4 linked regions of the Homo sapiens genome follow. The protein of the gene in region 4 binds, or shares a complex with, the protein of the main gene of each other region. Each region holds a gene or a part of one and is shown on either strand. Other genes may lie near its edges. The genes, in order: FBH1, FEN1, POLD3 and PCNA. A codon is read from its position in the direction of its gene.

The links.
Region 1: the proteins of PCNA (region 4) and FBH1 are in contact, whole or in part, in a crystal structure (PDB 8F5Q), measured with the Homo sapiens proteins. Residues at the interface, in NP_002583.1 of Homo sapiens: Met40, Ser43, His44, Val45, Ser46, Leu47, Leu126, Gly127, Ile128, Pro129, Ala208, Asp232, Val233, Pro234, Tyr250, Leu251, Ala252, Pro253, Lys254, Ile255; in NP_835363.1 of Homo sapiens: Ser56, Gln57, Arg58, Cys59, Ile60, Pro61, Phe63, Phe64.
Region 2: the proteins of PCNA (region 4) and FEN1 are in contact, whole or in part, in a crystal structure (PDB 1UL1), measured with the Homo sapiens proteins. Residues at the interface, in NP_002583.1 of Homo sapiens: Cys27, Asp29, Met40, His44, Val45, Ser46, Leu47, Ala67, Met68, Gly69, Asn95, Ala96, Asp97, Leu118, Met119, Asp120, Leu121, Asp122, Val123, Glu124, Gln125, Leu126, Gly127, Ile128, Pro129, Glu130, Gln131, Glu132, Glu201, Pro202; in NP_004102.1 of Homo sapiens: Arg19 (codon at 1,760), Phe27 (codon at 1,736), Gly28 (codon at 1,733), Arg29 (codon at 1,730), Lys30 (codon at 1,727), Lys80 (codon at 1,577), Val167 (codon at 1,316), Lys168 (codon at 1,313), Ala169 (codon at 1,310), Gly170 (codon at 1,307), Pro188, His208, Ser210, Arg211, Leu296, Lys297, Trp298, Ser299, Glu300, Arg332, Ser335, Thr336, Gln337, Gly338, Arg339, Leu340, Asp341, Phe343, Phe344, Lys345.
Region 3: the proteins of PCNA (region 4) and POLD3 are in contact, whole or in part, in a crystal structure (PDB 1U76), measured with the Homo sapiens proteins. Residues at the interface, in NP_002583.1 of Homo sapiens: Met40, His44, Val45, Ser46, Leu47, Glu124, Gln125, Leu126, Gly127, Ile128, Pro129, Thr206, Ala208, Asp232, Val233, Pro234, Tyr250, Ala252, Pro253, Lys254, Ile255, Glu256, Asp257; in NP_006582.1 of Homo sapiens: Ala453 (codon at 3,465), Asn454 (codon at 3,462), Arg455 (codon at 3,459), Gln456 (codon at 3,456), Val457 (codon at 3,453), Ser458 (codon at 3,450), Ile459 (codon at 3,447), Thr460 (codon at 3,444), Phe462 (codon at 3,438), Phe463 (codon at 3,435), Gln464 (codon at 3,432), Arg465 (codon at 3,429).

The regions. Positions count from the first base shown.
Region 1 is NC_000010.11:5,884,511-5,893,614, reverse strand, and holds the start of FBH1 (F-box DNA helicase 1), read right to left. Parts: upstream 3,373-9,104; 5' UTR 3,270-3,372; coding exon 3,269-3,269; intron 2,941-3,268; exon of another isoform or gene 2,499-2,940; intron 1-2,498. Other genes in the region: ANKRD16 (ankyrin repeat domain-containing protein 16), read left to right, coding at 4,261-4,574, 5,548-5,768, 7,850-7,892. UniProt on the Homo sapiens protein: 3'-5' DNA helicase and substrate-recognition component of the SCF(FBH1) E3 ubiquitin ligase complex that plays a key role in response to stalled/damaged replication forks.
Region 2 is NC_000011.10:61,788,077-61,797,175, reverse strand, and holds the start of FEN1 (flap endonuclease 1), read right to left. Parts: upstream 4,266-9,099; 5' UTR 4,148-4,265; intron 1,836-4,147; 5' UTR 1,815-1,835; coding exon 672-1,814; 3' UTR 1-671. Other genes in the region: dolichyl-diphosphooligosaccharide--protein glycosyltransferase subunit TMEM258, read left to right, coding at 4,618-4,620, 6,574-6,683, 7,255-7,381. UniProt on the Homo sapiens protein: Structure-specific nuclease with 5'-flap endonuclease and 5'-3' exonuclease activities involved in DNA replication and repair.
Region 3 is NC_000011.10:74,636,927-74,644,186, reverse strand, and holds the end of POLD3 (DNA polymerase delta subunit 3), read right to left. Parts: intron 3,624-7,260; coding exon 3,421-3,623; 3' UTR 1,111-3,420; downstream 1-1,110. UniProt on the Homo sapiens protein: Accessory component of both the DNA polymerase delta complex and the DNA polymerase zeta complex.
Region 4 is NC_000020.11:5,114,357-5,118,127, forward strand, and holds the end of PCNA (proliferating cell nuclear antigen), read right to left. Parts: intron 3,309-3,771; coding exon 3,114-3,308; intron 1,217-3,113; coding exon 1,093-1,216; intron 1,007-1,092; coding exon 927-1,006; 3' UTR 597-926; downstream 1-596. UniProt on the Homo sapiens protein: Auxiliary protein of DNA polymerase delta and epsilon, is involved in the control of eukaryotic DNA replication by increasing the polymerase's processibility during elongation of the leading strand.

The sequences.
Region 1 (9,104 bases), on a different chromosome or scaffold from region 4:
CACGAAGAGTTGAGTCTTGAAAGAATCATGGGATTCAGTAAGGCGGAAGGAAACAATGTGTGCAAAAATACAGAGGCATTAACAATGCACTAGAGTGGCAGGAAAGCTGGGCTTCATCAAAACAAGAGGTTCCCTGATGAGGAATGACAGGAGATAAGGCTGGAAAAGGAATTTGGAGCCACAGACTACAAAGGTCCTTACACATAATGATAAAGAAATTGGGCTTCAAAAAAAGAAATTGGACTTTATCAGGTAGGGGCTTCAAGGTATCATCCAATTTTGTTTGTTTGTTTGTTTTTTGTTTTCAGACAGAGTCTCACTCTGTCTGTGGTCCAGGCTGGGGTACAATGGCACAGTCTCGGCTCATTGCAACCTCCGCCTCCCAGGTTCAAGTGATTCTCCTGCCTCAGTCTTCCGAGTAGCTGGGACTACAGGTGCACACCGCCACAGCCAGCTAATTTTTTGTATTTTAGTAGAGATAGGATTTCACCGTGTTGCCCAGGCTGGTCTAGAACTCCTGAGCTCAGGCAATACACCTGCCTCGGCCTCCCAAAGTGGTAGGATTACAGGCGTCAGCCACCGCGCCCGGCCTCATCCAATTTTTAAAGCAGGGTCATTACACAATCAAATTTACACTTTAGGACAGTGACTCGGGAGAGAGGATAGAAGGTGGAGAGACATGGAGATTGTCAGGAAAACAACTCAGAAAGCCACCATATCAACCTATGTGAGAATTGGCAAAGGCCTGAGAGTAGCAGACCCTGCAGGTGCATAAGAACATGGCTTTGTTTGACAAGACAGAAAGATAAAAGATAAAGAGCAACAAGGATAACTGGCATTTCTAGTAGAACATTCAAAGAGATGTTAATGTCATTAACCATGTTAAGGAATAAAAGAGAAACAGTGTTTGTGTTTTAATCACTTTTTCCCCCGGAGTGAGAGGGAGGCTGAAAGTCCTAGTTTTAAAAATAATTTCTGGCTTTAAGTTATCTGTGGAATACCATGTTTATGCTCCAGGAGGTCCTCTGAAATCTGAGACTGGTCTTCAAAAGGCATGTGAATGACAGTTACAGATATAAGATTTGAGATGCTTTCTAAAAGTAGGTAATTTCACAGCCAGAAAGGCAAAGATGGAATCCAAATTCAGTTTCCAAATAAAATCAGCCTAGGAGGGATAGAGGAATGAGATAAGCAGCAAAAAGATGATGTCAACAAACCCAAAATTAGAATTCTAAATCTAATACCAATAGTGGTGTCTACACACACTCACAAATCACGAAACCTGTCAAATGATCAGTGTACCAATGGGCATGCTCAACAGCATACCCATGAAAAACAGGAGGAAAAGGAAGGGCAGCCAAGGAGCAAGTCGGTGCCAATGACGACTACATGTGACGTGACTGTAAAGGCCAGACCACAACCTCCAAAAGTCTGCACGAAAGAAATGAGCAGCCCAACCGGAAAACAGCAAGACCCAGGAAACAGCTCCATCCATTAGCTTACTGTTCAGATCCCGCCCCTCTAGACCAAGCTTTTGCCCAGAAAATCACAGGAGCTGCGGGACAGATTCACATACATTATCATTTAGTTATCCAAAGGGGGATACAGAGCAAAGAAGGTTCATAGAGAAGACACAAGAGGCAGAATCGAATGTGCAACACCAATGAAGTAACCAATTATCCTGGGTTCAAATATTCCAACCTGGCTAGGCACGGTGGCTCACGCCTGTAATCCCAGCATTTGGGAGGCCGAGCTGGGTGAATTACTTGAGGCCAGGAGTTTAAAGACCAGCCTGGCCAACATGGTGAAACCCCGTCTCTACTAAAAATACAAAAAAATTAGCCGAGCATGGTGGCACACGCCTGTAATCCCAGCTACTCGGGAGGCTGAGGCAGGAGAATTGCTTGAACCCGGGAGGGGGAGGTTGCAGTGAGCCGAGATCGTGCCACTGCACTCCACCCGGAGCAACAGAGCGAGACTCTGTCTCAAAATATATATATATATTCCAACCTACTGTGAACCCGTGTGTCCCAATTATGTTTAAAAAACAGGGAAACTAGAGACATAATGCAAGAGAAGATAGTCATCTGAAACTGGGAGAGGGGCAGGGGTAAAAGCAAAAAGCATGAAGCTACCAGATGCCTCAACTTCCAATTTGCACTAACTTCAACGGCAGCAGAACACTGCTTGGCACGCCCTACACTTTTGTGCATTTCAAACAACTTTTATGCCTTCCTTTTTTTCTTTTGCTGGAGTGACAAGGCACGACAGAACAATAACCTGAGCAAAGCTGGTACTTGGACTAGTTCTGTCTCCAGAGGCTATCCACATCACTGTTACCTTAACCAAACTCAATCTGCTCATGAGTAAAACGGACTTATCTTCATGGGCCCATTCCAGAAGTCTTTTCATTTATCTCCGCTCATTTTACCACAGCGGCAGACGCTGGCGGACACTCAACACATGCTACCATCCTGCCTTCCAGAAGACTTTATTACCTGTAATTCTGTAAGAAAGTCACTGACTTGGTTAGGCCTCCACTTCCCCACCTGTAAAACCCTACTGATGCCTCATAGGGTTGTCTTCGGACCACAGACTGCAATAAAAAATGTAAACGGCACTCGTTTTTAGGCCTGGCAAATAGGAGCTACTCCCATTCTACTCCCTAAAGGAATCGAAAACATGGAGAGGTTAAGTGACTGGCACCTAATCAGATCGGGTAAGGAACCCAACACCTACTGATCTCTTCCATCACCCACAGCCTGCCCAGCTCTCGCCGTGCCCTCCACCAGCGCCAGGCCTCCCACATCGCCTTAGGCTTCCCATGCTCAGAGGAGGGGCAGAGAAGCTACCGATGACACAGGGGCAGAGGGCAGCGAAAAATGACTTGCCCAAGGTCAAAACGTCAGAGTAGACGGGAAAGCCTGGCCTCCTAGCAGCCGAGGCCACGTCCCCGCGCTTGCCCCTTCAGCCCCGAGGACCCACACGCTGCGCCTTCCTGGCCTCGGGGGGCAGCGCGGGGGCCGCTCCCGACCGAGTTCAGTGAGCGCCCTGGCCTCCCCCGCGCACCCCCGCCGCGCCCTCCACCTGCCCACGGCCCGGACGGCCGAGCCCCCACGCCCGCGCTTGCCCGAGCCCAGCCTCGCGCCCCCGGGGCCCCCGCTGCCCCACCCCGGGCCCGGACCCCCCGCGCAGGACCCCGGAGGTTAAGTTTTCCACACGGCGGAGCCCCTCCCACACTCCCTGCCACGTCTGCGGCCTCACGCACTGTGGCGCTCCGGACCCGGACCCCGCTGCCGCCGCCGCCGGGCCCGCGCCGCCGGCCGCTCAGCCCAGCGTCCCCCGGCAGCGAGCTCCTCCTCTGGCCGGGACCTGGAGCCCGAGACGCCCGCCGACTTCCTCCGCGAGCTCCGCCCCGCCGCAGCCCCGGGAAGCGCCCGCCGCCGGAGCCGGACTGACGGCCCCCGCGACCAATCGGGACGCGAGACCGGAGGGGGCGTGCTGACGGACGGCCACTAACGCCAATCGAAATGCGCAATCGGTGGGGGCGCGGCCACAGCTACCGGGCCACGCCCCATCCGCGCTTCCGCTCGGGCCGGGGCGGAGCGGGAAACTTTCCCAGAGTTCCTTCGAGCTCCCCGAGTCCCCGCGGAGCAGCGGCGGTCGAGGGGCGGGGACGGGGGCGGAGCCCAGGAACGCCGGCCCCCAGGGGCTGGAGGCTGGGGCGGCCCTGAGGACGCGTGCGGGGCAGGTCACGCTTGGGCCTGGCTGCCTCAGGAGCCACCCTGCACGGCGCCGGGCGAGGCTGTGCGCGCCCTCCCGGACCCTCCACTTTGGGGCTTTGCGGTGTAGCGGCGCGCCCCACTCCCTTACGTGTTCAGTCCCGAATCACGTACGGGCCGCTGCAGCTCCAGGACGGCGGACGCCAGCGCTCTCGGATCCCCAGGCCCCTCCGTGCTCATCCCGGACCGCTCCGTCCCTGAGGAAAAACCGCCCCGTGCCCGGAACCGCGGCTTCTCCCACGCGGGGCAGGCCGGGGCTGTGAGGGGGCAGCCCGCCTGCGGACTAGGCCGGGGGTTTGAGGAGGCGGCTCTGCCGGGGACAAAGCCGGGGGCGTGAGGGGCGGTTCTGCCGGGTTCGGGGCGCGCGGGGCAGGTTGCGTGAAGAGGCGGAAAGTCCCACTCGCCCTCGGCTTCTCCCTGCCCGGCCGCCGGTGTCCCGCCCGCCGCCTCCCCGCGCAGCCCGGCCCGACCCGCGGCGATGGCCCAGCCCGGGGACCCGCGGCGCCTCTGCAGGCTGGTGCAGGAGGGCCGGCTGCGCGCCCTGAAGGAGGAGCTGCAGGCGGCCGGGGGCTGCCCGGGGCCGGCCGGGGATACCCTCCTGCACTGCGCCGCGCGCCACGGGCATCGGGACGTGCTGGCCTATCTGGCCGAGGCCTGGGGCATGGACATCGAGGCCACCAACCGAGACTACAAGCGGCCTCTGCACGAGGCGGCCTCCATGGGCCACCGAGACTGCGTGCGCTACCTGCTGGGCCGGGGGGCAGCGGTCGACTGCCTGAAGAAGGCCGACTGGTAGGTGTGGAGCGGAAAGACACCCCGCCTCCCCTCTACTCGCAGAGTCGTAGCGAGTTCCCTGTGCTTCTCCGTCCCCTTGGACACCGTAGCTGTTCTCAGCTCCTAGTTCTCACCCCAGGCCTGCTCAGCGGCAGGGACCTCCTGCCCAACTTTCCCTTATAACGCAGATGACCTGCAGAGTCCCTCGTTCCTGCCCTTGTGGGTTAACTGGTCGGGGCAGTCACCTCCCTTTCTAGAGCACGGAATAGTGTAGAATATAACCAAAGAGAATGTTACCAAACAATGAAGTGTGTGCACTATACAGATAGCCTCCGGATGCGATGTTCTGGGGACATTTAGCTAAGTTACTTCTGCACCAATGCATTGTTTCAAGTGGCATTGCTCCAATCAATATCCAGAATTCCTGAGTTATACACGCGCTCGTGTGTGTAGAGCACAGTGCAGTTGTATCACATACGTGCAGCCTTGCATAACCACCACAGTCAGAGATACTCTGCTCCACCATCACACAAGCCAATTGCATTTCGTTTGTTAGATTGACACTGATTTTAGTACTCACTAGGTCAGGTTCGTTAGAGGGCGTGAACATCTTTAGGAACATAGGGAAGTACATCTTCCCCACTGGGGCAGGGGAATAGACTTCGTTATGTGTTGAGGGTTGTCTGTGGGTTTTCTTAGCTCTGCTCCAATTCACTGCTATCCTGTGAACTAGCTTATAAGCTGCTTTGTCTCCCAGGCACCCTCTCCTCTAGGTACACGTTCGTTACAATCATTTTCCCCTTATTATTTCTCCCAGGGTCCTCACAGAAGGCACAGAGGTTGCCGGTCAAAGCTGTTTTCCTGCCTGCCAGACCCCTGAATCCTCTAGGTTTTCCATCTGTGCCAAGGATGTGTGTGTTTTGAAGACCTGGCCCCTGGCTTCTAATGTCTCAGCTGCCTCCATCTGACAGCTTCTCCTGGTTGGCCTTAGGACTCCTCTGATGATGGCCTGCACAAGGAAGAACCTGGGGGTGATCCAGGAGCTGGTGGAACATGGCGCCAATCCACTCCTGAAGAACAAAGATGGCTGGAACAGTTTCCACATTGCCAGTCGAGAAGGCGACCCTCTGATCCTCCAGTACCTGCTCACTGTTTGCCCAGGTGCCTGGAAGACAGAGAGCAAAATTAGAAGGACTCCTCTGCATACTGCAGGTACAGCCTACAGCTCTGCAGGTGAGCAGTACACACATGTGGCTGCTTCACCCAGCACTGCCCAACCGCATCTTGTTCAGGTCACCTTCAGGGGAAAGGAGGATTTTGGAAAACAGAAGGCAGAGAATAAGAACATCTGGGGGGGAGGGGGTGGGGGCGGGGGCGCGGGTGCAGTGGCTCACGCCTGTAATCCCAGCACTTTGGGAGGCCGGAGGCGGGTGGATCACCTGAGGTCAGGCGTTCAAGACCAGCCTGGCCAACATGGTGAAACGCCGTCTCTACTAAAAATACAAAAAATTAGCCGGGCGTGGTGGCGGCTGCTTGTAATCCCAGCTACTGGGGAGCTCCAGAGTCTGAGGCAGGAGAATGGCTTGAACCCAGGAGGCAGAGGTTGTACTAAGCCAAGATTGCACTACATTACACTACAGCCTGGGCAACAAGAGCAAAACTCCATCTCAAAAAAAAAAAAAAAGCATCTAGGGGCCTTTTGGCATATAATCAATTTCTAAAGTTAACATAACTTGGCTAGCATGCTGTGGTATTAATTTATTTTTCGTGTGTATCTGTGTTATCCTCCCTAGATTATTTGCCCATGAGCTGGTTCTGTAGCACATAGTCTTTGACCTTGGGTAAGGAAATTAGTCTCTCTCTTGAGCAAGTTTCCTCATCAACCAAATAATAATGTCAGTGATGGTATGTCTCAGGGTTGTTGTAGAGTTTAAAGAGCATGATGTATGTAAATCCTTTAGACAATGCTTGGCACATAGCACAAAATAACTGGTTAGTGCTATTTTCTTTATCATGTTTACATTCTTACTCTTAAAGGCAGGAGGGAAATATATATCCTCATAGCCTTAGTAACACCTACCATAGTGCTATACTTTTAAATAAATATAGATACTCATAATTAAATACCTTGGCCCAATAACATCTAATGTAAATTTGGGTTACAGTTTTTATTATTTGGAGTAGTGACTCTTAACTCTGAATTATCTATTTGTAGATTATTTTAGTAAAAAGTTTCAATTTGCTCATTTGTTTGAAGAAAGTAAAAAGAAAACAATTAGTAAAAAGTAAAATTACTGTAATTTCAGAAGTTAGATATTAAGGAGCTCAAGAGTCTAGATTAAGAAATTCAGAATATAACTTGTAGCTTTCTAGGTAGTACATTGATTAGGATAGAGGGCTTTTAGTTTCTCTAAAAATCATCACTTGTGATGTTTTATAGTGTTGCTTTTTGTCTTTTGTTTTTTTTTGAGACAGAGTCTTGCTCTGTCACCCAGGCTGGAATACAGTGGCACGATCTCGGCTCACTGCAACCTCTGCCTCGCAGGTTCAAGCAATTCACGTGCCTCAGTCTCCCGAGAAGCTGGGATTACTGGCGCATGCCACCATGCCCAGCTAATTTTCATATTTTTAGTAGAGATGGGGTTTCCCCTTGTTGGCCAGGCTGGTCTTGAACTCCTGACCTGAAGTGATCCACCCACCTTGGCCTCCCAAAGTGCTGGGATTACAGGCATGAGCCACAGTTGGCAATTAGGGACCAAGGAATCATTTCTAAAACTTCTTAAGTAAGTAGAAAACTTTTTTTTAGCTCATGAATTATTTGACCAGTTTCTCCCCTGGAGAAACAATCAGCACTCCATCATTCACCCAAAATAGTGGAAGACAAATAGTCATAACCTTTGAGTATAGTTACTTTTAGTAGGGGAATTAAATCCAGGCTATTTTGCCATGGATTACTGTTACAATATTTTGCATTTCCTGGGCAAAAATGGACTAGTCTTGGGGATCCACAGCACAGAAGTGTAACTTTAGGATTGAAAGTTTCCCATGAAAGTGCACGTGAAGATAAGATAATCAAGTGTTGGCTGTGTACATATAAAGTGAAAACATTATTGTTTACCGCTTTATCCAGTTAAATATTTATTCGTGTAGGGCGGTAACAGTGTACCCAATTTAATGACTCCTTCTTGTAAGCTATCACTAATAGAACGGGGCAGAGAGCAAAGCCAGGAGGCAGGAAGCATTTTGTGTGTGCACTAAAAAGCTCTAATTCTCAGCTTTCTTTCTCCTCCCAGCAATGCATGGCCATTTGGAGGCAGTCAAGGTGCTTCTTAAGAGGTAAGAACAATACAGCAAGTCAGGGAAAATATTTGCTAACTATGACAAAGAGTTGATATCAGTGCTACATAAAGAGCTCAGACACATTTTTAAGAAAAAAATTAGGCTTTCAAAAGAAAAATGAACAAAAGACATAGCAGATAAAGAATATGAAACAAAAATAACAAATATCTGGGGAAAATGTTTTCAGCGGCAAAATCATCCATTTCTCTATTTTTTTCAACGAGCATTTATACATTCATTTAGTGCTCGGTGGCTCACGCCTGTAATCCCAGCACTTTGCGAGGCCGAGGCGGGCGGATCACAAGGTCAGAAGATCGAGACCATCCTGGCTAACACAGCGAAACCCTGTCTCTACTAAAAATTCAAAAAAAATTAGCCGGGCGTGGTGGCGGGCGCCTGTAGTCCCAGCTACTCAGGAAGCTGAGGCAGGAGAATGGCGTGAACCCAAGAGGCGGAGCTTGCAGTGAGCCGAGATCGCGCCACTGCAGTCCAGCCTTGGCAACAGAGCAAGACTCTGTCTCAAAAAAAAATAAATAAAAAATAAATAAAGCCCTGTACCAGGTGCAAGGGCCACAACAGAAAGAAGACACATGTAGTTTCTACCCTCCTGGAACTCAACAGACTGGCAGGAAAGACAGACCATGAAGGAGTCCCGAAAGTCTGTTGTGCATTACAAGGACTTGCAGGATCCCTACAGAACAAATAATGGGAAGACCCAATTTGGCTTAAGAGTAAAGAATCTCAGCGCCAGTGTTTAAGCTGTGACCTGAAGGAGAAAAAGAAATTAGCTGAAAGCGGGAGGCAAGGGACCATTCCAGACAGCAATAACAGCACCCACGGATGCTCCAAACCAGGAACAACTGTGGTACATTTAAGAAAACAAAAGACGCCTAGAATATGCTGAGCCTGAACAGTGAAGGGGTGGGAGAATGAATGCTATCAGCCACATTGAGGATTTTCCTTTTTTTTTTTTTTTTTTTAGTTTTTGAGATGGAGTTTTGCTTTTGTCACCCAGGCTGGACTGCAATGGTGCAATCTCAGCTCACTGCAACCTCCACCTCCCAGGTTCAAGCGATTCTCCTGCCTCAACCTCCTAAGTAGCTGGGATTGCAGGTGCATGCCACCATACCTGGCTAATTTTTTATATTTTTGGTAGAGACGGGGTTTCACCACATTGGCCAGGCTGGTCTTGAACTCCTGACCTCAGGT
Region 2 (9,099 bases), on a different chromosome or scaffold from region 4:
CCAGTGTCTTATTCCAAAGTCTCAACTCAGCTGATTGCCAGGTGAACATCACCATCTTACTCCTCTGAATAACTAGACACAAATTACATAGCAAGTTCGAGTTTCTGCCCACCCAAGACACAGCCAGTAATCAGTCACAAACACAGACACAGCCAACTCCAGGGGCTCCAGCTTTCTGCCCATCTTCTCTCAGCAGTTCCTCCCATCTGCTAAGATGCGCCTTCCTGGTGGCTCTCTCTCAAGGTGGGTCAAGGCTGAACAAGACAGAAAAGCACAGTCTAGGTCCACCATCACCTCCCACTGGCCACCAGTTGGCCAGCCAGGAAATCATTTCTGTACATCTTTTGTCTCCCCCTTTTATCTCCCTCTCTCTTCTCCAAAACTTGTTGCTATCTATCACTTTCATGTAACAATGGACTTAGTGTCCATTAAACTGCCTGAGAAGTGGTTTGAGCCTGACATATTTTCCTGAGCTAAAAAAGGAAAAGTACCTCTGTGGCCTTCTTGCCATTAAGATCAAGTAAAAAAGGGACTAGCACTACTGAAAAGGGTCACGCTAGAAAAGCCTTAGAATCCTCTCTCCACCCCGTGAAGGTTTCTCTAGCTGTAGCTCTTAAGGGTACAAGACGGCAAATATTCTGGGGTGAAGGAGGTATAATGGGGAAACACATTTATTTTCCCCTTTTAAACTTCCCTGCTGCCCCAGTCTTTGCCTTCTTCTTAGTGGATCCCTTGGGTTCTGGCTCCTTGCGCTTAGCTGAAGAGAGTGAGCCGGTCACCTTGAAGAAATCATCCAGGCGGCCCTGGGTGCTGCCTTGGCGGCTCTTACTCAGCCTCTTGACCCCACTGCGGATTCGCTCCTCAGAGAACTGCTTTTCACCACACATGAACTTGATCAGCTCTTCTTCATTTGGCTCGCTCCACTTCAGCTCCACAGACTCTGGGTCCAGCACCTCAGGTTCCAAGAAGAGCTGGTGAGCCTCCTTGTGGAGCCAATTTTCTGGCACAGGGTACTTGTTGGGGTCAAGTCGCCGCACGATCTCCTCGATGCTCTTGTGCTTCTGGATGAGGTCCACAGCCCGCTTGGGCCCAATACCCCGGATACTCTCACAGTAGTCACTGCCTAGCAGGATGCACAGATCCACAAACTGTTCCTGGTTCAGGCCCAGCTCCTGCAGAATCCGGCTCAGGTGGAATTCCTGGATTGGCAGCTTTTTGGCTTCACTGGCAGTCAGGTGTCGCATTAGCACAGGGCTGCCGAAGGTGAGGCAGTCCATGTCCTCGGTAGCCGCAGCATAGACTTTGCCAGCCTTCACCAGGGCAGCACAGCTGGCCTCTGCCTCACTGGGTGCATCAAGATAAGGGATGCCCATGAGGCTCAGCAGATGTTTGCACTCATCATTGTGCTGCTTAGTGACCTTCACCAGCCGCTTAGTGAATTTTTCCACCTCCTGCTCGGCCCCAGCAGCCTGAGCCTGCTGCAGCTGCTTCTCTGCCTCAGCCCGCCGCTCACTGCGTTTGGCCAGCTCGCCTGACTTGAGCTGTGGCGGCTTGCCATCAAAGACATACACGGGCTTGATGCCGTTCTCCATCATGCGAATGGTGCGGTAGAACATGCCCATCAGGTGGCTGGTGGTCTCACCCTCCTCATTCTGCAGCACATCCCCACCCTGGCGAACAGCAATCAGGAACTGATAAATGCTCATAGAGGCATCAATGGCCACCTTACGGCCAAAGTAGCTCTTGATGTCATTCTCCCGGATGGCACTGGGGGCCACATCAGCAATTAGTTTGGCCAGGCCTTGAATTCCCATGGCAACACAGAGGAGGGATGACTAAAAAAGAAAGGCAAGTCAGAGACGGAGGAAAGGAGAAAGGTTATAACTGGTGTTATCTCACCAACTTCATGCCTTCAACTAAATTCCACACAACAAAAAGGACACCATGTCAGCACTGCTAAAGATAAAAAGATGAACAAGGTCCCCATTCTCAAAAAACTCAGTCTAGCAGGAGAATTTACTCAATAGTAAGGCTCAACGAGTACCAGAAATTGAACCACGTGCTTAGAGAAATAAGATACTGTTGATATTCTAAGGTAGCAGCATTATTTATTACACAAAAAAAACCTGCAACATAGGTCTCCATCAAGGACCACAGAAGGCCAGGATGCTTGGCCTGGCTTGAGGAGTCCAGGGACCATAATGGCAGACCTGAAAGACAGGCAAATACACCAGCTAAACAAACAGATCTGATTTGTTTTGAGTCTCTGGAGAACCCTGACTAATAAGGCAGCCTTGAAAAAGGATTGCAAACATATCTGAATGGAGGTGATGTGGCTTTCTCACAAGCTTCTCTAAACTCTCTTCATCATCGCCTCAGCACATAAGAGTTTCTACTTTTATTATAATGTTGCTAGAGTTTCAAGTCTTTCCCTTTGCGTTTTCTCGCCACCACTCAGTCTGAAATGTTAACTCCATGGCTCCTCCCCAGGTCCTGATTTAGGGGTCTGGCATGCTGTAGTCACTGGGCTCAAAAGAGTATTGCACTTCAGAGTTCAGTGTTTCCCAGATAGCAGTGTTTCCCAAATCACCCTCACGATTTTTGCTACTTCCAACTAAAACCCGTACTTTCATTCACTTAGAATTTTTTTTAAAAAACTAAACTGGAAAACTCATAAGCAATAATATTTGTGTTCTATTAGTTATATTTTAATATGTATTAAATGTATAACTATTAAAAAGGATTTTTAGGGGGTGCAATTTAAAATCATCTTGCCATCCTGGCCAACACGGTGAAACCCTGTCTCTACTAAAAATACAAAAAAAAAAAAAATTAGCTGGGTGTGGTGGTGTGCACCTGTAATCCCAGCTACTCGGGAGGCTGAGGCAGGAGAATCGCTTGAACCCAGGAGGCAGAGAATGCAGTGAGCCGAGATTGTGCCGCTGCACTCCAGCCTAGCAAGAGAGTGAGACTCCGTCTCAAAAAAATAAAAAACTCATCTTGTGCCCACTGTTGGTATGTGTCCAATACTCCAAGAAATATTCTACTGGGGCCAGGCACAGAGGCTCTGGGCAGTAATCCCAGCACTTTGGGAGGCCGTGGTGGGAGGATCACATGAGCCCAGGAGTTCCAGGCTACAGTGAGCTATGATTGTGCCACCACACTCCAGCCTGGGCAACAGAGCAAGACCCTGTCAAGAAAAGAAAAGAAGACAAAAGAAAAGAGAAAGAAGAAACGAAAGACTCCATCAGGCCTTTTCATTGTTCCCACTCTTTCTTCACAGGGTTCTTTCTAGAGCATCAATGACTGTTCAATTCTTCCTTCTAATTCAGTCCAAACACTTCAGCATGGCATCACGATCTTTCATGTTCTGGTTCCCAACCTAACCCTACATTCTGGGATCTCAACAGAAAGCTGGAATAAGGCCCGCCTTTTCCCACTTTTCCTTAGCTGTGCCCTCCTCTCGCCATCCTCTCACGCGTCCTTCCAGGTCCATCCCTGGATTATTAATCAATTAATAATTAATTGACAATGAATTATTCATTTGATTAATATGAATAATTCCCCTGTGAACTGCAGCGGCAAAAGCTCTGGCCTTGAATCTAGGCGCGGCATTTACCATCCGTGTGACATTACCAAGCCACTGAGGTTTATTTTCTCGTCTACAGAAGAAGAACGATTACCATGCCTGTCTCTCAGGGCTGCTGCCAGGGTTAACTGAGACAACAGACAGAAACCTCTAATGTCCCCTCTCCAGGCCTGTTCAACCCTTCGGCTCTTGCCTCAAGCCGGCCGCGCTGCTGGAGTGTGGACTGAGGACCAGACCATGTAGCCCTTGATCCCCTCACGGCGTCCCACAGACAGGTAGGCAGGAAAGGGGCCTAAACAACTCAAGTGTCAGAAATGTTTCTCGTCCAAGGTCTTAGGAAAAATACAACACGACCCCATAAGGTGGAACTTATTACCGCTTTTCTACAATGGAGGAAAGAGAGGCTCGGAGCTTACGCGACTGGCCCAAGGCTCACAGGGGGAAAAGTGGCGGGACCTCTTGACTGCGAATCCCGCGCACTCCAGACCCCGGCTCCCCACGGCCCCCAGCGCCAAGCGGACCCCGTCGCTCCCGGAGGCGCTTCCCATGGGGTCTCACCTGGCCTTTGGGACACGCGGCCTCGGCGGCTAAAGCTTGGTTCGGGGTTGCCCCGGGCAGGCGGTCCTAAGCTCGCTCTCCCTTCTCAGCTTAGCGGCGGGTGGCCTGACGTTCAGCCGCCTTCCAAAGCCCGCGCTCCCGTCACGTGACCTGCTCGCCACGCACAGCCTCTTGGGGCGCGTAGTGCAGGCTGCGTCCCCTCAGACGGCTGCTCTCATGGCAACCAGTCCCTCCAGGGAGAACAGAGTCTCTCAGCGACCCTGGCGTACCCTTCTCCACCGCTTGTCCCCACTCCACCCACACCAGGTCCCCGCAGGCCCCTGCTCCCTCTACACCCGAAATCGCAGGACTACAAGTCCCTCAATGCCACTTGCGCCGGAGGCACTTCCTTTTCCGGTTGTGCTAGGCGCCTGCTCCTGCCGACGTGTTCTTCCGGTGGCGGAGCGGCGGATTAGCCTTCGCGGGGCAAAATGGTGAGAGCGTTGAGGGGAGTTCCAGACGGAGATGCGAGGACCCCTCGGGGTCTGACCCACACCGCGCTTATCTCCTCAGACGCCGGAGATCCAGAGGGCTAGACGCTCCTGGAACCTCCGGCTTGGGCTGAAGGGTGGGGAAGGGGGAAGCCCCTTGCCATGAACTCCTTAGGTTTCTCAGCTCGCGATTTCTAAGGGCGAGAGGCGTGGGGCGAATTTTGAATACCTTCCAGTTTGTATATCTCTGTTATCGGTGGTGTGTTATCTTTATTTGGAAAGTTCTTCTGCCGAACCCGTGCCCATCCTACAATGCCCTGGGCAAATGTTTATTGGTGAAGCACTTCCAACTCTCAGGCACTTGGCCAGACTTTCCTAGGAGCGCCCACAGCCTCTGTACAGATCTCTGGCCACGTTCCATGGACTTCTTTGTTTTCGGCCACGCCTCCTAGTGACCACCGTCTGACGCGCATCTAGCTCTGGGATGATGTCTATTCATCTTTGTATTCTCAGTGCCAAACAGAGGGCCCGTAATTGGAAGCTCAATAAATGGCAGTGATTGTCTTTATCATTTTGGGGGAAGGGGGCCGTGATTGTTTACTGAATTGAATTCCAGTGTCTCAGAACAATGGGGGCAGTTTACTTCTCTAGAGTTGTTATGTTCTGGATTTTAGAAGCATTGGCTGACCGGTGACAATGAAGTTAACATTTGTACAGATCTTTACGTTTACAGCCCTCTTTCATAAAAGACATTATCTCATCATCTTCCCTACAGCCTTAGGAAGGAAGCAAATACCTGTTGAGCAAAATACTCCCTGCTAGGCACTAGATGCTTTGATTCATCATCTTTCTTATTTTTCAGTTCTGTGAAATAGATATTACAGTCGCTTTACTCAGACTCAGATTACTCAGAACCAGAACTTGAATGTCTTGACCATAGCTCACAAGATTCCATAATAGCATAGGTAGTGAGGAAAATACTGAATTAGAAATTGAGGGCCAGGCGCGGTGGTTCACTCCTGTAATCCCAGCACTTTGGGAGGCTGAGGCGAGCGGATCAGGAGGTCAGAAGTTCAAGACCAGCCTGGCCAGCAAGGTGAAACCCTGTCTCTCCTAAAAATACAAAAAATTAGCCGGGCATGGTGGTTCACGCCTGTAATCCCAGCTGCTCGGGAGGCTGAGGCAGGATAATCACTTGAACCCAGAAGGCGGAGCTTGCAGTGAGCCGAGTTGGCACCACTGCACTCCAGGCACTCCAGCCTGGGCGATAGAGCAAGACTGTCTGGAAAAAAAAAAAAATTGAGCCTGGGCGCGGCAACTCACACCTGTAATCTCAGTACTTTGGGAGGCCGAGGCAGGCAGATCACCTGAGGTCAGGAATTCAAGACCATCCTGGCCAGCATGGCAAAACCCCATCTCTACTAAAAATACAAAAATTAGATGTGGTGGTGCGCACCTGTAATCCTATAGTCCCAGCTACTCGAGAGGCTGAGGTATGAGAATCTCTAGAACCCGGGAGGCAGAGGTTGCAGTGAGCCGAGATCGTGCCACTGCCCTCCAGCCCGGGCGACAGAGTGAGACGCCGTCCAAAAAATGAGACTCCGTCAAAAAAAAAAGATATTGAGATCTGGGTACCACCAGTCAGTGACTTATAGCGGGGGTTCTCAGCTTGGTGTCTATAGACACTGGTCCACAAAGCTCCGGAAATTGTAGGCAAACTTTTTCTTGTATGTGGTTTTTCTCAGGCAGAGAGTTCGTACCTTTAGTCACGTTTTCATAGTGGTCAGATTATTGGCCTCAGAAAATGCTAATAAGGGCCATTGATCTGCAGCTACATTTCCGGGCTAAAATCAGCCTCTGTTTCACGGCAGCACCAGGCTCCTTGATAACCGCATGTTCTCTCCAGGCTGAAATCGTGGGATTCTTTGATAGCTCTGATCTCTTTCCCTCCTCTAGGAGCTCGAGGCCATGAGCAGATATACCAGCCCAGTGAACCCAGCTGTCTTCCCCCATCTGACCGTGGTGCTTTTGGCCATTGGCATGTTCTTCACCGCCTGGTTCTTCGTGTATCCTTTCACTGAGCAGCCAGAGGACCAGCATTAGTGATGTGGGAAGCTCAGGGAGAAACCACGCTAGGTACATGGACCCCGCCGGTTTTGTACATTGGATTGGGGCTGAGAGAAGGTAAGGAGGAGAGGAGGGCTAGTGATGCCCAGGGGCAGGTTATAGCCTTATTTCCCAAGTTCAGGTGAGCTCAGTTTGTTCTTTGGATTTCCAGGACAGTGAGCAGGGGACCTGGCTGGAGTGGAGGTGGGGAATAGGGGTGCTACAGTTGGAAAGGTGGTATAAGGAAGGGTGCACTCAGGTGTCAGGAGGTCTGAGGGCTAGTCCCAGCTCCGGCCCTCATGAGCTGTGTGACCTGGGGCAAGTGACCTAACTCCTCTGGGTCTCATTTTCTTCATGGCAGTGGAGCACCAGAGTCCAAGGCATCTCTTAGGCCCCTCTGCCTGGCTGCTCTGAGCCAGATAGGCCTCCCAGAAGGCATTGAGCCAATGCTTTTCTCCTCAGATTGCCGTGGGCTGGGCTCTCTGCACTCCACAGTCCACCCCTTCGCTTTGCCTTAACTGCTGTGCCCAGTTACGAGGTCACCTCTACCAAGTACACTCGTGATATCTATAAAGAGCTCCTCATCTCCTTAGTGGCCTCACTCTTCATGGGCTTTGGAGTCCTCTTCCTGCTGCTCTGGGTTGGCATCTACGTGTGAGCACCCAAGGGTAAGAGCTGCAATGGGATGGATGCGTGAGCCTCCAAGGCACAGCCCAGGGAAGCCTCCCCAGAGTCAGGTCAGCAGGGTCCTTAAAGCTCTTACCAGCATGACCCCTTGGTTGATGGAGACAGACTCAGTGGAATGGGTAGGGACACTAGACATTTGTGCCTCTTTCCCTGCCCCTCATACGGATTTGAGCCAAATGTGACTCTCAGTTCTGAGCTCACATGGCCCAAGGCCTCGATCTGCCTTTGGGATGTACCACCTAGAAGTGTGGACGCAGGCATCCCATGGCTGTACATTTACATTCTTAGAAGTCAGACCCCAGTGACTTGGAGAGGCTGCTGGGAAGTCAGCTGGCTGAAAGGGGGTCAAGATCCAGGGCTTAAAACTTGCTGCAGACAATCCACCAAACAGGCCACTAGGAATCAGCTCTGGTGGCTCATCCTCAGAGGTGTGTGCTCAATAGCCCTTGCCCCAGGAGCACAGGGGTGCAGGGAGAGAAGGAGGAAAGAAGGGCCATTGGTCTTATTTTGATACCCCTCTCCTCTTTTAGGTAACAACCAGATGGCTTCACTGAAACCTGCTTTTGTAAATTACTTTTTTTTACTGTTGCTGGAAGTGTCCCACCTGCTGCTCATAATAAATGCAGATGTATAGCAGTCCTGTCTGGGGCCCATTCTGCAGGGGTGGTGGGTGCTGGGACCTACATTGCTTCCCCAATCTCTTCCCTTTCCCATTTCTCATCTGCCTTTCACAGTTCCTGCTGCTGATCTACTTAAGGGGGATGAGATTTGTGTAGCACCGGTGTTTTGTCATTGGAATTTAAGGCTTACCTGTGGATAGGGTCTGGGCCTACCCTTTTCTATTGTTTCTAGGACAAACTTCTCTGGGAACCCACATCGGTCCATTCTGCCCTAGGCCAGTCCCTGCCATAAACATAGCCACCATTCTCTGTGCTGGGGCATCCTCACCAGGCTCAGCTTCTCCCCCTAAGAAGGCTTTTCTCCTCAGTGGCTACTTTTAATGCAGGTGGGCAGCAGCGGGTGCGCAGGAGGGGAAGGTGTGGCCATGGGAGAGGCTGATGAGTCCACTCCTAGCCCCAATATGAAGCTAAGAGGATAAGGGGTATGAAGCATCCATTTGGCCCTCTGGTTCAGGCGCTCAGAGATTCCAGGCTTCTCAGGAAGAACTTTGAATTCCAATTGGCCCTAGCCTTATAGGTGACTCCTCTCCCACCAGACCAATCCCAAGAAGAGACAAGGAGGCAAGCTCAGATACAAAGCAGTATTTATACATTTATTTATATATGTATATTTACTTCAGAAGAAACGAACATTTCGGGGACAGGAAGCAAGCAGGCCCGGGGCTGCTTCCCTCACTGCCCACCTCAGAGTCAGAGTTGGCACATGACAAATACCAAGCTCAGGGAGAAGAACTGGGAGTTAACTGGGAAGTAGGGGGCGCTCTATGCACACGCAGGCTTCTAAGGGTGCACGGTATGGGCAGGAGGATTTGCACTGGGAGGCCCTATGTACAGCTTGAAGCTAGGGGGAGATTAGCCCAGTGACTACAGGAACAAACGCCAAAGGAGAGAGAAGAAGGGAGGGATGACCTGCTGGACCCCAGGGCAGGGACAGGGCCAAGACACTCACACCATTGCCAGCCGGGCAGCTGGCAGCTTCCAGCAGGTGGCCCACTTACCTTCCCTGAAG
Region 3 (7,260 bases), on a different chromosome or scaffold from region 4:
TCTTCAGCCCTCTCCTGTATAATAACTAATGTCTTCTTAAAGAAACAAAGATAGAAAAGGAATAGAGAACTGTTTCACTCGTTTACCAGCCCCCTCTGCCCCTGAATTCCCAGTTTTTTCCAGGGAGGTGAGTGGAGGCTCATCACTGAGAGTGTCAAAGAAGAAATACCAGCTTTTGAAATCACTTTAAAAAATTGATTCTGCTACAGAAATCTATGTTGACGGGGGAAGACAAGGGAAACACTGCAATTGTCTATGCTGACTGCCAGAATTAAGCGGCCTTGTTTTAACCAAGATGGTTTTCTTTAATCCCGCTAGAATTTTAAGATACAATGTGCATATGCAAGGGTAGAAATACTATCATGGATACAAAATCAAAGTAAATACTGGCTGTCACTCTTAACTGAGAACCAACTTCTGTTACTCTTCTTAAATTTCTTCAGTTGGCTCCCATTATCTACAAATCAAATCCAAACTGCTTAGCAAGGCCCCAACTTCATTTCTGAATACATTTTCCTCCCTATTCTCAAGTTCTACAGCCCACCTCTCCCAAAAGCCATGCTCCTCTGCCTGGAAAGTCATTTCCATTCCTCTTTGCTGGGTGAAATCCTGCTCATCATTCAAAGAACTGCTTGCTCCAGGAAGACTGCCTTGATACCCATCCTCCTGGGAACTCTTGGAGGACCCTGTACATTGCACTCACATATGGCACTGTCATTTCATTTTACTGGCTTTCCCTTCCACTAAATTGTGAGGATCAAGTGCCAAATTCTATGGTTTCTATTATATCCTCTAGTCCCCAGGTCATGGGCTTGACACATAGTAGATACACAATAAATGAACAGTAAATATAGGCATCTATAATTCCTTCAGTAGGAAAATATCTACTCTCTTTAAACCTTTCATGAAATAGGACAACTATCTTCCCCTTTTTACTACATGTACAGCCAGAATGACTGAAGAATATACCACCTGGGTCGTATAACTGATAACATTTCAGGAAGCTGCTAGCTGATTACATCACTTATGACATCAGAAAGAAAGCCACCATTTTGTAGAGCGCGTATGTGACCGCCAACATGGACCGAATTCATGCTACATACACTTGACTTTAGTCTTGACACCCTTGGTAACTCATTTTAGTTTTATTTTGATAAAGAACTTGAGGCTGTGAAACTTGCCCACAGTCATACAGCTAGCAAGTGATGAAGCCAAACTAATACAATGTGCTAGATTTTCTTCTAGATGAACTAAAAAATGAGGTTGGCTGAAACTAACATTTCCCCAGTGCTGAAAAAAACGATGAAGGCAGCAAATAACTTGTTCATCTCAGACTGTGGGTATGCAGTTTTAACAATATCAACTGAAAACCAGCCTTCTTCCCATTCAGAGCTTAAATAATTGCAACACTGTTACCATCCATCAAATAAGAGACTCATCAGATACTCAGTTTGAAGCACTGTTTTAAAACAACTTCTCAAATTTATTTAACTCATGTGGTTAACATGGTATTGTATAAAAAGAAAAAAAAAACACCACTCAATACTTACTAAGCCTTGCAGACAGCTCAGAGTTGAGGCAGCATATTGGGCATAGAGATCATAGGATTTGTATTATCCCTTGCAAGATGGAACTCCAACCAACACCAGAATTTTCCAATTCAAATTCAGTTTTAGTCGAGACCCCAGCATAATTTTTAGAAAAAAGATTGGATTGTTGCTTTTCTTTTAATTTTCCATTCCTATTTAGACAAATGACCAGAGGCAATGACAAAAGTAACTGTTTAAAAGGGATTTCTCTCCAGAAGTTTTTTCTAAAGGTTTAAGTCCAGGCTTTCCATCCTTCTCTCCATCCTTTTTCCTTTTAAAAAGAAGGGTTTTGGAATATGTCAACCTTTACTCAGCTTGCTATACAAAGCCACTGCTTTAGTCCTAGACATAATGCCAGGACTCATCTCCCAAACTTCTGGTCTTAATCAAGTTCATGCTTGGTTGCTAAAGAAGCTCATGTTAATCCCAAAGTCAGCACAATCCCAACCTTAAAAAGCAGACAGCTGATTGCATCACTTACGACATACACCATCTTGAGGCAAAAGAAGCCAGTCAGACACCCCTTGTCTGCTACGTGTGAGACACATCAGCAGTTGAGCCTGACCCCTTCCGCAGAGCTCACTGTGCAAAATCACCAGCACACCACTGCAATCCACTGAGCTCACCGCCTGTCCAGCCATAATGGAAGTCACTTGAAGGTTATCATTGTAATAGATGATTTTCCATAAGTAACTAATAAAAATGTTTTCTTTGATGTTTAGACCTACTAACAATTCAGTCTCTCCCTCTCCATCCTCTCTTAGGGAGCCTGTACTTTTAAGCAAATAGGGAAGCTAAAAATACAAAGGAGCAACATCCATTTATAAATAAATGTGTGCCTTATCTTCCTCACTAACTTCCTGGAAAAGTGCTGTTTTTGAATATTCTGTTTTCTTAAGGAGAAATTTTTTGTAAATGTAGCACACTGTATATAGGAAGGGATTTCTCTTTTTAGTCTTTATCTCATTGTACGGGTTTCACTCTCTAGGTATTGAGAGTGGGGGAGGAGGGGATCAACAAACCGCAAAGAGCAGCATAAAGCACACCCCGTATCAGCAGCACGGCAGCTCCTCCAATATCGTCAATGCTGACTCGAGGTAATTTCTGGTGGAGTTGAACACATCATTAAATTTCTATTTGTGTTCTGCCTGAGGCTTTTCCCTAACCACTAATTGCAAGTGAAGGTCCCAGAGAGCTTTTGTGAAAGGAACAGAACACAAGCCACGTCCTGGTCTGTAGCCAGGTGTCCGTGTACTGCATAATGGAGGAAGAGGATTACAGGGAGATTTTCACTTCAGCCTTTAGTCCAACCAAAACTTAAAAGACTTACAGAGAACAGCCTCAGGAGGTTAGGGGACAGAAGTGTGGTACTGCAGGAAGACAAGAGGGGTAAACGTATCCAGCAGAATGTAAGGATAAGAAACACCCACATGAATTCTTAGAATACAGAGGAACAAGAAGGAATAATTCCTGTGCCATATGCGGACCAGGGCATAGGGTGAGTGGAGCACAGTGGGTTAGCCACTAAATGGCTTCAGTGAGAATTCTGAAAACTGTTCCAGTATAATTTTGGAGTAAATCCTTCTCCTGGACAGGTCAAAGACTGTGCTTTTTAAATGTCATTAGAAGGTAACAGCTTTTTGCCTCCTGCTTCCAGATGATTTCCTTTTGGTTAAAAACCAGAAATAGTATAAACCTCACAGGATGAAAGAACAGTCTTTTGATACAGGTGAGGTGGAGATCTAGATGAACTTACATAGTAAGTGAGGAGTACATTTCTTGGTCTTCTCCCTTGACCACTCCAAGTCTCTGATCTACCAGAGATGGCAGTTTATTTCCTCTGGAAGAAGCCAGTAATGGACACCTGTCTGTTGGCTTTGCCCAGAGCAGCAGTCCCTTTCTTGGGGCCCTTTCGTTCCTCTCTGGGTTCTTTTTTCACAGTCATGGCAGGGGGTCTGTGTACTGAGGATGTCTTCATGTTAAGCTCCTCTTCACTATCTGTGCAGGATTCACTCTCGTAGACTTTTTCAGTCACTGGTAGGATGAGAAAAAAATGGAACATGGGTGGGCTGAATCATTTACTCTATGAAGAAAATGGGATGTCTTGCTAACCCCAATCATTTCAGACTCTGATCAAGGCAAATATGCTTACTTAGGACTCAATCTTTCTCCCACTGGGAGATCAGATCTAGCCTAAGGTAGGAACTATGTGGGATCCTGAGCTCACACAGTCTCTATTTGATGCTTAGAATTAACGTTCACTTTTCTCCCTCACAGCTATATCCCATGCCTTTAAATGGCCCTTTATCAGTGAATTGCCTAAATCCTTTATTTGGGTCCTGGCCTATGCTGGCTAACTTCCTGAACTCTATATCCGAATTGTCTATATCTTAAACACTTACTTCTAACTCCATGCTTTGACTGGCTTCTTAAGTATCACCTCTCTGACCTACAATGCCTGCCTATTCCCGTTACTGGTCTTAAACTGCTGGCCTATTTGCCTGCCTCCATTCTGTTTAACCAAGGTCACCATGGACCCTCCTGTCTAGCTCTAACCTGATGCCACCCACTCTCTGCACATCCTAGGTACAGAGAATTGAAGATTAGTTACTCAACTGTTCGGTTCTTAGTTCTTAATGGCTGCAAATTAACCCAAAATTTAGTAGTAGTCTGTATCATGAAGGTTAACTATCTCAAGCAAATGCTATCGGATGACACACGTGTTAAAGGAATGACAGTGATAAATTGAGAAACAAAGTTACCAGTTTTCTTACTCCCTATCAGCCGAAGGCATAAATTGCTTTTCCCCTGCTATTAAAACTCACTGAACCCTTCCCAAGGGAAACTTGGAAAAGAACTGTAACAGTAAGCAGTCATTATGAGCAAGCCCCAAAGGACACAGGCACAGATAGTGGCTTCCAGCCATGACGTCACATAACCGAGGAGGATCTACACTACTGCAACACATATACCAACCACAAGAAACAGCATGCCACCTTTCTGTAATTTTAGAGAGCTGTGGCAGCTGTATAACCAATGCTATCTAAATTCTTTCTCAGCCTTCCTGGTTGCAGCAAGCGATAGAGAAACATTGAAGGAAAAGAGCTTGTTCTTAGCTGAAAAGCGTAACCTAATATGCATAATAAATGCTCAAATGATTAAAGTAAAAGGTTTTTTTTTCCATTAAAGAACAATGACAGTCTTGAGCTTTTATTGATAATTCTTTCTAATAAAATATATCAAATTGTTCTAGAGGCATAAGCTTTGGAATCAAATGTATGTGTGTCCCAATACCTACTCTGCTACTTAAGATATCATCTCAAACTTTACTGTGCATCAGAACCACCTGGAGGGCTTGTTAAAACATAGATTGCCAGATTCTGTTTCTCAAGTTTCAGACTCAGCAGATCTGGGGTGGGACCTGAGAATTTGCTTCTCTAACATGCTCCCAGATAATGCTGATGCTGCTGGTCTGGGGACCACACTCTGGGAATTAATGTTCTCTCCTTCCCTGTTTTAAATGTTGAAGTGCAATTGCCACTGGAGCATTCCGTCCCTCTTATCCAGCTAATCCCATTAAGGCTGCATAATCAACAATCCCTTCCCAGAGAGTTCCCAGAGTTTGTCTTTAATTTTGTAAGAGCCCAGAATTCACTTTGATGTTCACTTAGAGGCTAAAAAATACTGATAAATTTTAGATATATATTAAGTATTCTGAAAGGCCTTACTACTCAAATTGTGCTCCGCACACCAGAGGCAACAGAATCTCCCATGAGCTTATTAGGAATGCACTCTCAGTTCCCACTCCTGGCCTACTGATGCAGAATTTCAATTTTAGCAAGATCTTCAAGTAATGCACATAGCCGGCAAAGTTTGAGAAATGTTGCTCTAAGATAATTAGAGAATTCCCATGGCATACCTATTCGTTCAGCAATTAGACCCCAGAACACCACCTCCATCTCACATGCATCTTCAAAAGCATTATGTAACTGAATTAATGGGACAAAATTACGAGCTGTTATTTATTCAATATCTTAAATTAGAAAAGTCTGAAGAGCCATCTACAGATACAGAAAGGAAATTACTTTCTACTAGTTGGTGGTATAAGACTTTGCTCCTTCATAAGCTATATTCTGTACTCAAATGGCAGCATGTCTACATTATACTTCAGCATCAATTAGCTCATTATTTCATTACTTATTAATGAAATCAATGGCTGTCTCATTGCCAATTTTGTGTGAGACATTGCTCAGGGGAGTTAAAAAACAGTCAGGGCAGCACCAACAAAATTTCTTTAGCAGCATATTCAGTATACTGTAAGAACTAAAAGGAATATTTCTATATTCAAAGCTGTAGCTACCGCAAACCCCAGAAAAAAGGAGGTCTCCATTAAAAATATAGGGCCTTTATTTTAGCTGAACAACATGCCACTTTTCTGGGTTGCCATTAAAAAAAGGCAAACAAACCTGGTTTTCGTGGGTAACATCAGATTTCTTTTCCACTTAACTGCTTTGCTCTTAGAAACCCATTCCCTTGTCCAGAAGTCTACTCCAAACTTATCTCAGGGGCCCAACTACCCAATTTCTGCTGCAAAGTCACAAAGAGAGAAAGATGAGCTTTCTAAACCCATAGAACAAATCTGATCCAGCACAGGACAGGGCAAGCCCCCTATGCTGGTACATTTGGAACAGTCTGAGCAGAGAGAGGAAAGCAGAACTCCTTTGTTGGTAACCAAAGCCAAGATTCATTAGGTTGAGCTTGGACCAAAAACCTTTAAAAAAAAAAAAAAAAGTGCAATGTGAGCACAGTTTTCACTGCTGCATCCAAGGCTCTTAACAGTCCTGTCTGGAGACAGGAGTGCAAAAAAGTCCACATCACACACCTGGCCAAAACTCGAGTACTATATTTTAAACAAAGCAATAAATAATTACCCACAAATTCCCAATGAACTCTCACTCTCACAAAGACGTTTGACTTTTTTCTTTTGGGGCAGAAAGAGGAGGAAAAAACTGGCACCAATGTTTTTGTCCTCTTAAATTTAAAAAATGCACTGTTGAATTAAGAAATTCAACAGTAAACACATATATTATCACCCATGGCCAAACCAAGAGGCTTGAAAATGGCAACTATTAAAAGACTGAAAGCCAAAAAAAAAAAAAAAAGGAAGAAAAAGAAAAAAAAAAACCCATTCAAAGTCCAGAATTCACAGGTTCACAAGAAATTTGGCACTGAAAAGACAGAATTTCCACACGTAAAGAATTTTACTCCCCAATCACATGTTACAATTAAAATGGCAGAGGCCTTTTCAGAGGACTGGGAGGTGGGGAATAGTGGGACAGGGAGCACAGATGACAAAATGTCTTCACTAGTTTTAAGAACCTGGAAAGGTTGATTCTTCAGAGCCAATCTTTTCAAAACAAGTCTGAACTAGGAAAAAAAAAAATCAGTAACAGGGAAAATAATCTTCTCTGAAGATCCAAGCTGTAGCAGGTGCCACAAAAGGCAAAATGACAACCATGGGCTATCCAACTAACAAAGGTAAGAGCCTAAACCCACAACTCTTTTCAAACACAAAAATACAGTACCAGGATCTGAGCATCCCATCAAACCTCAAGTGCTAAATCTTAAAAGCTCCACAGAAGTCTAGTGTGATTATGGAAAGGGTAGAAGA
Region 4 (3,771 bases):
TGTGAGGCACCGTGCCTGGCAAAAAATTCTTAATACACAGCACACAGTGAACTTGTAGCTATTAGTGGGAATGTTTTTAAGTCTTTCTTCACAACTTCAGGGCTTTTTCACTTTCTTGGTTGGATCCAACATCCGTGGAATTTAAGACATCTTCATCCTTTGAGTGAAGTTGCAAAGTGTACTTATACTAGAGAAATTTTGTACAACCATACTCCTTGGGCCCCATTACAGCTCTACTGAAACATCCAAGACTCTTGTAAGATTCCCCAGGCTAAAAAGAAACACTCCATTAACATCTTATAAAGCCCACACGACTTTCGGTACATTAAGCTTCTGAAGAGTATTAATTTTTGCCAAGTAAAATGAAATACACAGGATTTGTACTACTCTCTCACTTGTTCCTTGAGCTCAAATTGGAATAACAAGTTTGACAAGTGAATCCCCTAAAATATCTAGTAACCTACTGTATTTGAAATCCTTTTGATCTCCATCAGGCTGCTCTAAACTGAAAAACCATTTAAACGAAAGGGTAGCTGTAGCTGGGAATTCAGTAGGATACTTCCAACAGTCCTGGTCAAAATGAAGACACTGCCCTGTGATGTTTGAAATTCAAGTAACTTTATTTAAATTCAAAAACAATTCTTAAAACTGCATTTAGAGTCAAGACCCTTTTGTATTATAAAAATCACAAGTATTTCTAAGAGACAAAAATACTTCTAGGTTAACTAGACCAGATCTGACTTTGGACTTTATTCTTTAAACAAATTGCAGAGAATAGAGAAAAAAATAGGTTATTTACAGAAAACAATATCTACATATGTACTTAGAGGTACAAATTTGGTGACAGAAAAGACTTCAGTATATGCTGGCATCTTAGAAGCAGTTCTCAAAGAGCTTAGTTTTATTTTCTTGAATTTTAAGAATGCCTAAGATCCTTCTTCATCCTCGATCTTGGGAGCCAAGTAGTATTTTAAGTGTCCCATATCCGCAATTTTATACTCTACAACTGAAAGACAGGAAGATGGTTAATTACTGAGGAGTATGTATCACATATGACTACCTACAAAACAAGGTTCAAATTTATTATCTTACCAAGGGGTACATCTGCAGACATACTGAGTGTCACCGTTGAAGAGAGTGGAGTGGCTTTTGTAAAGAAGTTCAGGTACCTCAGTGCAAAAGTTAGTTGAACTGGTTCATTCATCTCTATGGTAACCTACAAAACAAAAGATTCATCATTGAAAAACATCAAGAAAGTTGCAATCTATTAGCTCATTATATATTTATAAAAACCCACAAACACTTGTATTGGTCACTTTGGAGGGAGCTATGAAAATTTTGAAGACTGATACATAAAGCAAAAGACTCGATTATCTAGCTTGTCTTTCCTATAGCTATAATTTAGATAACCAAATTATATAATATGGGAAAGCTTTTCTTTATGGAAGTTTTTCTAATAAGCAGCCAATAAGTGAATAAAACGTATTAATTTCAGCTCTGCAAACTCTAATTAATGACTTAATGGATCTAGACAATGACTATTATAGCTGCTAACATTGCAAACACATCCAGACACCCTGTGCCTCCTACTAGAGGCACACACCACCACCTATATTCTTGCTCTCTCACCCCCGAAACAAAACACCCTGAATATCAAGGCTCCAGGGCTATAGCTACCAGTCTGTAGGACACACAGGGTAGAGGAATTTATGTATACACAGGAATGCAATCAGCAAAATCCAAACTCTGGAAAACTTAATAAATGATCTAATTTCTTCAACAAATAGATTGTAATGGAAGGGGGAAAATGAAATTAGGGGAAACCAGGCTAGGTGTGTTGGCACACACCTGTAGTCCCGGCTACTTGGGAAACTGAGGCAGGAGGATCACTTAAGCCCTGGAGTTTGAGGCTGTAGTGAACCGACTGCACCACCGCACTCCAGCCTGGGTGGACAGAGCAAGACCCTGTCTCAAAAACAAAGAAAAACAGAAAAAGAAAAAAACGAGGTTGGCAGGAGTGGAAATGTGATTCAGGAAACAGATAAAGAATCAGCTCCTAGACTTTATTAATTTAAAAAAAAACCTTTCAACTGAATTTTACCTTTATTTAAACTAAATGTTGACTACCCATTCAAGGGACAAGAGAGCAATATATAGTATTTATTGTAAGCTTATAATATGCCACACACAGCATATGCTAAGCTCTTTAATGCTACCGTATTTAATCCTAACAAGGTTATGAGGTTAGGACCTTTGTCCTTGATTTACAAAGTTTTAATTTATGCCCAGGTTAGCGAGTTTTTTTTGTTTGTTTAAGATGGAATCTTGCTCTGTCACCCAGGCTGGAGGGGAGTGGCATGATCTGGGCTCACTGCAACCTCCGCCTCCTCGGTTCAAGTCATTCTCCCATCTCAGCATTCCAAGTAGCTGGGATTACAGGTGTGCGCCACCACACCCGGCTAATTTTTATATTTTTAGTAGAGATGGGGTTTTGCCATGTTCTTTCTATTTTGGTTAAACAAGGGCTCTCTAGGTACTCTCAAAGTTGCATGGAGTCTGCTTTCTAGCCTTAGTGAGAAGTCTCCTTCCTGTTTAACCTTTGATTCCTACAGCCTGTGACTTTGGCTAAATTGTCACTTAAGGTTGCTCAGCCTGCTTCTCCACCTTTAAAATGGGCTACCAATTGGACCCACAACATGTAAGCTAATATTAGGATTACATAAGTGCTCCAAACAGGTAGACTTTTACTCCTAACCATATCCTTCTATTGAGCTGCTGTCCTATGCTCAATTATTTGGTAAGAGAGTAAGTATCTCCAGAAAGCTAAAGGTTATACGCCTAACTTCCCAATCCTACCCTTAAGAGCCGGTGTGGACTTGATCCATAAACCACTGTTCTGTGGTATGTACACGTGCTGAATTTGTATTCCCTTCTTGCAAATATAATTCTAAATTGGATGACACTTATAAATCATTCGCAGATTTCAACAGTATCTCAATTTTCAGAAATTACTTGGGATCCAATTCTGTCTACTTTTAATTTTAGCAATTAACCTAATAAGCAGTATTATAATTCTCTTCAAACTATTTTCTTTTTACTTAAAAACTACTTACAGCTTCCTCCTCTTTATCGACATTACTTGTCTGTGACAATTTAATGTTTCCATTTCCAAGTTCTCCACTTGCAGAAAATTTCACTCCGTCTTTTGCACAGGAAATTACAACAGCATCTCCAATATGGCTGAGATCTCGGCATATACGTGCAAATTCACCAGAAGGCATCTTTACTACACAGCTGTACTCCTGTTCCTATTAAGAACAAAAATTTTCCAAAAGTTAATTGTTAGAAATTTAATGATTTGGCACCCTCACTTTCTTAAAAGGCAACACCTAAACAACTCAGAATCAATATTTTCTGATTACTTTAAAATATGACTTGCGTAATTTCTTAACAAACTCCACTCAAAAAAATAAATGGCTATTAAATGCACCATCCAGGGAACAAGAGCCTCCTCCTCCTCATCCTCCAGGGATAAAGTAAGAGAACATTAGAGTATGGCACAGAAATCATGATGGCGCAAGCAGGCCTAACTACTTTCTAAAAGAAAGCAAGAGAATATATTAGGCATTTTCAACATTCAAACATTTCTTCTCTCCTTTGGTGTTTATAAACCTAACCTGGATAAATTTCTTCCAAGTCAGCTTTAAAATCCACTTAATAAAAAGCAAGCATTCTAGAAGGAAACAAATTTTAAAAGAGGTTCATGGAAGT